3 linked regions of the Homo sapiens genome follow. The protein of the gene in region 2 interacts with the protein of the main gene of each other region in a pairwise test. Each region holds a gene or a part of one and is shown on either strand. Other genes may lie near its edges.

The links.
Region 1: the proteins of GRB14 (region 2) and STK26 interact in a two-hybrid assay, tested with the Homo sapiens proteins (one large-scale study listed by BioGRID and IntAct).
Region 3: the proteins of GRB14 (region 2) and HCK interact in a two-hybrid assay, tested with the Homo sapiens proteins (one large-scale study listed by BioGRID and IntAct).

Annotation. Positions count from the first base shown.
Region 1 is NC_000023.11:132,026,249-132,029,905, reverse strand, and holds part of STK26 (serine/threonine-protein kinase 26), read right to left. Parts: intron 1-3,657. UniProt on the Homo sapiens protein: Serine/threonine-protein kinase that acts as a mediator of cell growth. Modulates apoptosis. In association with STK24 negatively regulates Golgi reorientation in polarized cell migration upon RHO activation.
Region 2 is NC_000002.12:164,509,861-164,513,517, reverse strand, and holds part of GRB14 (growth factor receptor-bound protein 14), read left to right. Parts: intron 1-3,657. UniProt on the Homo sapiens protein: Adapter protein which modulates coupling of cell surface receptor kinases with specific signaling pathways. Binds to, and suppresses signals from, the activated insulin receptor (INSR). Potent inhibitor of insulin-stimulated MAPK3 phosphorylation.
Region 3 is NC_000020.11:32,097,196-32,099,909, forward strand, and holds part of HCK (tyrosine-protein kinase HCK), read left to right. Parts: intron 1-1,808; coding exon 1,809-1,940; intron 1,941-2,714. UniProt on the Homo sapiens protein: Non-receptor tyrosine-protein kinase found in hematopoietic cells that transmits signals from cell surface receptors and plays an important role in the regulation of innate immune responses, including neutrophil, monocyte, macrophage and mast cell functions, phagocytosis, cell survival and proliferation, cell adhesion and migration.

The sequences.
Region 1 (3,657 bases), on a different chromosome or scaffold from region 2:
TTGGGAGGCAAGTATAACATATATAATTAGAGAAAATCTAAGGCAGTATAATACATTAAGGACAAGACTGTCTACTACTGACAATAGACAGAATAGGTGCTTGGAAATAGAAGAGATTTCTATAGCCTGGGACATTCAGAGAGAGTTCATGAAGAAGCTAAGATGGAGGACCTTGAAAATCAGGTAGAATTTGGCCAATCACTGGTTATTGAACTGTGACTGGCATGGTAGAATTAAAGGGATTTCTTGTTGGGATGTAGTGGGAACTAAGTATAGATCTACAGAGAGGAGCCATATAACAGAAAGTATGGAAAGCTGAGCAGAGGGCTTTGTGTCTCATTGGGGTGGTGTGGGGTGGTGATTGGGTTTCAAAAGAAAAATGTGGGTTATCAAGCAGGAGAGAGATGAGATAATGGCAGTGTTTTCATGTGATTAGCCAAGCATTGTTTTGCAGGATGAACTGCCCCCCATACATCATAACACCTTTTACAAAGGAGCTCCAACTCCACAGATGATGGTTAATTCATCCTAATAACCTCTCATTGAGGCAAAGGAAATGCAGCTTTTATTATTCCCCATTTTGTAGATGATTTGCTCAAGGTCACTGAATATGAAAAGCAGAATAAAAAATACAATATCACAATGTTCAATTGTTCCTAAGTACCAGCTAAATTATATTCTCTCATTTGCTGTGACTCAAGCAAGAGAAGTACATGATGACGGACCTTTGTACTCAAGTGCCATTTCTAAACTCTGATTACTGTTGAAGGCACATGTCCTATCATACCCAATTCCTGTTTATTCTCCCTACAGTCCCTACTCCCCTAGTGTCAAAAGTTCTAACTAACCCCGCCTTCTCTCAGCTAACAGTCTTTGATTATTTTGTTCCAGCTGGTCTTCTGCCATTATCATTAGCATATTCAACACCTCTGCATTAACTACTCAATAACAAGGACAATAATTCGGGTTCACCAATGCAAAGCAATGCTTTCAACCTCAAATTGCAAATCTGATTATCCCCTTAGGGAGGTGTAAGGGAGGTAAGAACTCCACATACTGGACTCTGGTACCAACCTGAATTCTTTCTCCAATGTAGGTTTCCGGATGACTGTTAAGTAAAGAATCCCCCCATCCCCCACCCCAGTTAACTCTCTCTCTAACTTGACACACGTTCTCATCCTTTCATACATCTTAAAGCCACCCTTACTTTTCTTACACCCTTACTTTTCTTACAACCCTTACTTTTCTTACAACCTTACTTTTCCTGTCTCATGAGGGCCCTCACTTCCACATATTCTTTCTGGCATTATGAACCTCTCCCTCCTTGATGTCTCTAGTCCTTCATTTTCAAGTGAAGTGCCCGGCATAGAGTAGATGCTCAGTAAATATCTGATGAATGACCAAAGCTTCAGTTCTACATTTTCAACTACTTATTGGACATATGTACTTTGTCATCCCATTGTTACCACAAAATTCACAAGTCTAGAACAGAAATCCTTAACTTCCTACCAGATCTGGCTCTTCCCCACTACATTCCAATTTCTTTCAGATGTATCATAAGTCTCCCAGTTCCCTCCTATTAAACACCACAGTCTTTAACTTTTCCTTCTGAAACTAGCTAATTATTAAGCCTGGTAATTAATTTTTTCTTCATAGTACTAAACATATGTCCATGGAACCTGTCCATGGAAGGCCCATTGCATCTGTATAACTATGATTGACCCATTGAAATAGCCTCTGTAGCCAGGCGCAGTAGCTCACGCCTGTAATCCTAGCACTTTGGAAGGCCAATGTGGATGGATTGCTTGAGTCCAGGAGTTGGAAACCAGCCTGGACAACCACTAAACATTGTCTCCAAAAAAAAAAAAAAAAAACCATAAAAATTAGCCAGGCATGGTGGCGTGCACCTGTAGTTCTAGCTGCTCTGGAGGCTGAGATGGGTGGATTGCTTGAACCCAGGAAGTGGCGGCTGCAGTCAGCTGTGATCGCGCCACTGCACTACAGTCTGGGTGACAGAGTGAGACCGTGTCTCAAAAAAAAAAAATTAAAAAAGAAGAAATAGCCTCTGTAGATCAAACTGCCTTCCCCTCTCAATCCTCCAGTTGATTCATTCATCCAATTTTGAGATTTCTCTTTCGATATATAACTTGGTACATTGAGTCTCCCTTACTCAGAAATGTTTAATGGCTAGTTCAAAGGCCAAAATCCTTCCCTGGCATTTAAGGACAATCATGATCTGTACTCAATCCAGTTTTCCGACCTTATCATGTATCATTTTTCTAGAGGAATTCTCTATGACAGCCCAAATGACTTTATCCTGTTCTCAAAGATTGTGTGTGTGTGTGCATGCACTCACAAATGCAGTGCACCTTTCCTTATCTATATTGTATACATATGCTCCTTGACTTAAAATGTGGTTACGTCCCAATAAACCTATCATAAGTTGAAAATATTGTAACTTGAAAAGGCATTTAATACAGTACACCTAACCTACCGAACATCATAGCTTAGCCTACCTTAAACGTGTTCACAACATTTACAGTAGCCTACAGTTAAGCAAAATCATCTAATGCAAAGCCTATTTATAACAAAGTGTTGACTAGCTCATGTTATTTACTGAATACTGTATGGAAAGCGAAAAACAGAATGGTTGTGTGAGTACCATTGTAAAGTCAAAAAATCCTAGTCTGTCTACCTCTGCTGGGGATTTTTCCTTGCTTGGAAATGCCCTGCCCAGTGTGCATCCTAACAAGACTTTAGGGTCAGCTTACTTTCTGGAAGCCTTCAACACTTCCAGTGAGAAACTTCTATTATACTTACAGTGAGTTCACAGATTTTGCATTATTTGATATTTCATGTGCTAGTTTTAACAACTCAACAAGATTTTAAGATCTTTAAGGGTGGAACATGTAATATACGTCAGTATGCTTCCCAGAACCCAGTGATTATGTTCACCAATGTCGGGCAGTGTTTCCCACCACTTAGATAAAAGTCTTCAATAAAGTGATCATTAATCGTTAAACTTCATTTCTACTTCTCATCTCAAATGACAACTAGATTTAAACTGTACCACCTTGGTCATATTTAAAGATACATGAAGGCTAATTTTAAAGTTCTTTAGCAGAAGCTTTAAAAGTTCTTTAACAAGAGGCACAGCATAAAGCATAACATTTAGTACTCTAACTCAACATTTAACTTTATTCTTCCACCTACATCTTACGAAAGATTTAACAATCAACAATATTCTAAATGAAACTTGTCCTCAAAAATACTATTGTAGGCTCTAAGGGGAAATATCTTAAACTTAAGTATGATTTATAACTGAAAACTTCAAAGAAAACAGGGTTTGAATCATTAAAGAGTAAATATTTGAGTGGAAAGAAACAGGTTTATTGGTTTTTTTTTAAGTTGTACTTTAAATATTTTCAAGAGTTCAGCTACTGGTATGGAAAATTCCTCTAGTTACACACTAAAGAAGTAAGCACAAATTAAGTACAAAAAACTTCATACCCTCAACATTTGGTGTAACGTGGCAAAAAATGTTCGTTACCACAATATTAAGAAATATCAACAATATGAGTTTGAATAACTAATTCATAAGGAAGAGTTTGAACTGGACGAAATCCTGGGTTTTCTTTCTTCACTCCAAGTTTCTTT
Region 2 (3,657 bases):
ATGTCCCATGGCTTGTCTCTGCCTTTGTATTCACAGGGCCTTCTCCCTTTCTCTCTGTATGTCTCTTATAACAACACTTGTCATTGGATTTTGGGCCCACCTAGATAATCTCATCTCAAGATCCTTAACTTAATTATATCTTCAGTGACCCTTTTTCTGAATTAAGGTTACATTTATAATTTCCTGGTATTAGGGCATGAGCATATTTTTTGGGGGGCTACTATTCAATCCACTACAGAAAGCCATTGAAGTGTTTGAACAAGGGAGTGAAATTACCAAAAGAGTATCTTGAGATTAGTTTGGTCACAGGGAGCTTAAAAGATCAAGGAGACAGAGAGTGAAAGAGAGAAAAAGAGACTGAAGGGAAGAAGGCAAAGGAGGCAGAGAGGGAGGAGTGGGAAGGAAAGAGAAAGAGAGAGAAGTAGAGAGAGAGGGGCCACAAGATTAAATGGCAAAAGGCCAGATTTGTGTGGCTGATTGATATCAAAGAAGAGGAAGCAGTTAAAAATGTTCTTAAAGATAAAAGAAAATTAAGAAATAGAAAATAAAAATAAACAGGAATAGCATATTTACTAGAAGGTAACTCTCTTAGAAGACAAATAGTGATCTTAGTTCTGGATATGTTTTATTGAGGATGAAGCAAACAAATGGCAATGCTCAAAACAGCTAACGACGGAGACCAGATGTTTGGGTAATGGTCTTGATAGGAGATATGGAGCTGCAAAATAGTTATACCTGACTTTTTCCCATATTTTCCCCCAACTGCTCTTGTATAGCTTCCTTCTTTCCCTCATACACAGTTTTCTTTTGTTGCTGTTCTTGTGTGTGGGTCTTATGTGTGTGCATGTATTTCCTTGTGGTATAATGCTTCATGAACCACTACCTGGCTACCATCTATGTTTGCTCAAGGCCCTGGGTCTCTACAGTCAGCACGTAGTGAAGCCTGCCAGGCTTGTGTCCTTCCCTCAGGGCAGCAAGTTCCCCCAGTCCCTGGGTTGGTCTAGAGATGCCATCTGGGAGCCAGGGACTATAGCCAAAAACCCTGGAAATCGGCCAGGTGTGGTGGCTCACACCTGTAATCGCAGTACTTTGGGAGGCCAAGGTGGGTGGATTACCTGAGGTCAGGAGTTAGAGACCAGCCTGGCCAACATGGTGAATCCCCTTCTCTACTAAAAATACAAAAATTAGCCAGGCGTGGTGGCACAAGCCTGTAATACCAGCTACTCAGGAGGCTAAGGCAGGAGAATCACTTGAACCTAGGAGGCAGAGGTTGCAGTGAGCCGAGATCACGCCATTGCCCTCCAGCCTGGGCAACAAGAGTGAAACTCTGTCTCAAAAAACAAAAACAAACAAACAAACAAATAAACAAAAAACCTTGGAAATCTACCTGTTGTTCCATTCTACTGTGGCTTAGCAGGCACTCAAACCATGAGACGCAGGCCTTCCCACTCTTCCCCCCACTTTTCACTGGCAGAGGAGCCTCACCTCTGGCCACTATTACTACAAGTCCCCAGGGAGTACTGCTAGCAACTGCTGATGTTCATCTAAGGCCCAAGGGCTCTTCAGTCATCTTGTGGTGAATGCCACCAGGTCTGGGACTCGCCCTTCATGGTAGTGGACTCCCCTCTGACTCAGAGCATGTCCAGAAATGTCATCCAAGAGCTGAGGCCCAGAACTGGGGACCCCTCAGAACCATCCTGGTGCTCTATCCATCTGTGGCCGAGCTAGCATCGAACATACATTGAACATACAGGACAAAGTCTCCTTTACTTTTCCCTCTGTTTTTCTCAAGCAGAAGGAATCTCTCACCATAGTCACCACAACTGCAAATGTGCTAGGTTTCACCTGAAGCCAGCATGTCTTAGGATCTATCTTAGGATCTCATCCAAGTCCCATGGATTACTGCCTGGATATCACTGCTGGTTATTCAGGGCCCAAGATCTCTTAGTCAGCAGGTGATGGATCCTGCCAGGACTAGGTTTTTCCCTTCAAGGCAGTGGGTTCCCTTCTGGCTCAGGGTGTGTCTAACAATGTCATCTGGGAGCTACTTTCTGAATAGGGGCCTCACAACTCTGGTGCCCTGTCCTACTGTGGCTAAGCTGGTATCCAAGATGTAAGACAGAATCCTCTTTACTCTTCCCTCTCCTCTCCTCAAGTGGAAGGAAGGGATCTCTTTTTGGAGCCACGAGCTGTGCTGCCTGGGCTTGTGGGAAGGGTAGTGCAAGGACTCCCGTAGCCACCCCAGCTGTTGCTCACCAGCTTGTGTGCCCTCCAAGTGCATGGCTTCCAATCCCAGCTCATCACTAGGACTTGCTTAGGAGTTGCAGTCCTTGCAGCCTAGACTGCCTTTCATGTCTATTTAGGGCTCAGAGCAGTTTAGTCCGCAGTTGGGAGGCTCGCCAGAACTCGAGTTCCAACTGCTGGGATGGGCGGTTCCCCTCTGGTTAGGGCTGGTCTAAATCCTCCCTCCATGGGTAGGTGTCAGCTGAGTTCAGTTCGGTTTTGCTTTCCACTGTGACAGGGCAGCACTGAGTTCAATGCAAAGTCTCATAGTTACTGTGCTCTCCCTCTCCCAAGTACACAGATTCTTTCTCCTGCTAAGGAACAGGCGAGGGGAGGTACTGACAATGTAAGACTGTCTTTCCTACCTCCTTCAGTGCCTCTTTCAGTGATATGAAGTCCCCAGGGAGTACTGCAGGGACTGCTGATGTTCACTTAAGGCCTAAGGGCTCTCCAGTCATCTTGTGGTGAATGCACCAGGACTGAGACTCACCCTTTATGGTAGTGGGCTCCCTTCTAAAACCAGGTACTGTGAGTGCTCATCTGATTTTGGTTCTTAGAAAGGTGCTTTTTTTTGGTGTAAATGTTAAATTTGGTGTTCCTGCTTGGGGGAGGATAGGTAGAGCCTTCTGTTCAGACATCTTGCTCTGCCCCTCCTAATGTCACATATGGCATTTCTACCTGCAAAGAAACCATTTCCTATCCTTTTCTCTGAGGAGGTCTTGATTGGTTTTAGTTCTAAATTTAGTTAACTACTGCTGCAAATCTTAAAGATGTGGTCATGAATATATTTACAGAGAAATCTCTAAGTACGCTTCTCTCCACCTCCCCATGTCCGTACACATGGGGAAATGTACAAATGTACACATACTTAGATTTTGCTAACCATGCCCGTTCAACTTCATAGCCTTATAGTGCCATAAGCCTTAGCAGTGGTGGAACAAAAATCAAGAGAAAAAAACTCATCATACCTCTTATTGCCTTCCAGTGTTTCTCAAGCTACCTTTTACTCTTGTTTGAATAACTGAACTATATTGACTTCTACAGCATCAGTGGACAGGAATGGTTTTATTCCATCTTACTAGAAATCAAACATTTTTACCAGCAAATTAATTTTTATCCAGGAATAAGATTTTTAAAGCCAGGGCAATAAGCTTACCTTTCTCTTTCCTCCTACCTTTTTCCGAGGGTCCTATTCTGGGTCTTTTTAAAGCAATTTTCTTTCCTGTCTTATTCTCCAATGGTGTTAGAAACTACAGTCATTCATTCGATTAAAATGCTTAAGAACAGTGAATACAGAGAAACTCTTGTTCTGCCAGTTATCAGAGGTGGAATAACACCGGTAAATGACAATGAAAGATTCTTTTGGTTTTTGGA
Region 3 (2,714 bases), on a different chromosome or scaffold from region 2:
CTTGAGCCCAGGAGGTTGAGGCTGCAGTGAGCCAAGATCATGTCACTGCACTCCAGCCTGTGTAACAGAGCAAGACTTTGTCTCAAAAAAGTAAATAAATAGGGCCGGGCACGTTGGCTCATGCCTGTAATTCCAGCACTTTGGGAGGCTGAGGTGGGAGGATCACGAGGTCAGGAGATCGAGACCATCCTGGCTAACACGGTGAAACCCCATCTCTACTAAAAATACAAAAAATTAGCCAGGCGTGGTGGCGGGCACCTGTAGTCCCAGCTACTTGGGAGACTGAGGCAGGAGAATGGCGTGAAAGCCGGGAGGCGGAACTTGCAGTGAGCTGAGATGACACCACTGCACTCCAGCCTGGGCAAACAGAGCGAGACCCTGTCTCAAAACATAAATAAATAAATAAATAAATAAATGTAATGACTAAAGGAATAAAAGTAGAATGTATAATTTCTAAACCAGAAGAAGATAAGCAGGAAATCAAGAAAAGTCTGTAGATCCAAAGGAGGAAGGGAGAAAACATATACACACACACACACTCTCACACACACAAACACACACATAGAACATTTTCAAAACTTGACCATGTACTCAGTCATAAAGCAGGTCTCAACAAATTCCAAAGAACATATATTCTATAGACCATGTTCACCAACCATGATATAATTAAACTAAACACTTTTTAAAAAAGGATAACTATGCCAGGTGCGGTGGCTCACACCTATAATCCCAGTGCTTTAGGAGGCCAAGATGGGAGGATCACTTGAGCCCAGGAGTTTTGAGAACAGGCTGGGTAACATAATAAAACACTGTCTCTACAAATTTTTCTATTTTTTTATATTTTATTTTATTTTATTTTATTTTATTTTTGAGACGGAGTCTGACTCTATCATCCAGGCTGGAGTGCAGTGGTGTGATCTCGGTTCACTGCAACCTCCATCCCCTGGGTTCAAGTGATTCTCCTGTCTCAGCCTGTAGCTGGAACTACAGGCACCTGCCACCATGCCCAGCTAATTTTGTATTTTTAGTAGAGATGGAGTTGGCCAGGCTGGTCTCGAATTCCTGACCTCAGGTGATCCTCCTCCTTGGTCTCCCAAAGTGCTGGGATTACAGGCACAAGCCACCATACCTGGCCAAAAAAATTTTTTTAATTAGCTTGGCATAATGGGGCACACCTGTAACCCCAGGGGCTTGAGAGGCTGAGGCAGGAGGATAGCTTGAGGTCAGGAGTTCGAGGCTTCAGTGAACTATGATTGTGCCACTGCGCTCCAGCCTGGGCACTCTGTCTCTAAAAGAAAAAAAAAATGAAAAGGCTAACTAAACCCATGTCAGACTAGGTGGGAGGAAGGGCGGGTAAAGGGAGAGACACATAGTGACTGGTGGGAACCTCATGGGCTGAGAGCCAGAATCCTCCCTTTTCCCATCGCCCAGGATGAGAGGACTGAGGCATCAGCTGCAACCTGGACTCAAGGCCCCCTGAAGTCCTTCTGTCCCCAAAGACCTGTGACCTCTGGGATTCCACTCTTCGGAGTTGCAGTTAACTGGGGTATCAGCTGAATCAACGAGGAGGATTCTAGAGTGAACTTCCACACCATACCCCAGGCCCCTAAGCCCACTCCTCCTTGTTTAGCCATCTGTCCTCAGGATGGATGTCCCTTGCTTCCACAGGGAGGCCACGTATCAGGGAAATTGCAGGTCTGCAGGGGCAGATGTTGGCAGCTCTTGCCCTTGCCTGTTCCCCCACCTTAGCAGAGCCAACCCTCACTACTCCCCAGCCTTCCCCGACTCTGCTCTGTTCAACCCTGCAGGGGCCAAGTTCCCCATCAAGTGGACAGCTCCTGAAGCCATCAACTTTGGCTCCTTCACCATCAAGTCAGACGTCTGGTCCTTTGGTATCCTGCTGATGGAGATCGTCACCTACGGCCGGATCCCTTACCCAGGTAGGGAAGGGGCATCAGCTCAGGGCTGCTACCAGGGCCCAGTCTGGCAATGGGCTCATCTCAACAACATGTCCATTCAAACTGAGTTCTTGATCCTCACCCCCAACCTTCCCTCACCTTTCCTGTCTTAGTTAAAGGCACCTCCATCCATCTAATGTCTTAAGCCTGAAATCTGGGGGCTTCCTTGGCCCTTCCTTCTCTCTCACTCCTATGACTTTTTTTTTTTTTTTTTTTTTTTTTGAGACGGAGTCTCCCTCTGTCACCCAGGCTGGAGTGCAGTGACGTGATCTCGGCTCACTGCAACCTCCGCCTCCCAGGTTCAAGCGATTCTCCTGCCTCAGCCTCCTGAGTAACTGGGATTACAAGCATCCACCACCATGCCTGGCTAATTTTTGTATTTTTAGTAGAGACGGGGTTTCACCATGTTGGCCAGGCTGGTCTCGAACTGCTGACCTTAGGTGATGCGCCTGCCTCGGCCTCCCAAAGTGCTGGGATTACAGGCGTGAGCCACTGTGCCTGGCCTCACCCCTATGACATCTGAGCAGTCACAGGGTTTTGGCCACTCGACTCCAAAACATATCCCAAGTCTCACCACTTTGAACCCCACAGTCTCCACTGCATCCAGGCCAGCGTCATCTCCCATAGATGGTGCAGCGGCATCCTCATCAGTCTTACTGCTTTCTCCCTCCTCGTCCTACAGCCTATTCTCCACTTGCAGCCAGAAGGATAATTCTAAACTTTAAATCAGATCTTGTCCTTTCTCCACCTTTTTTT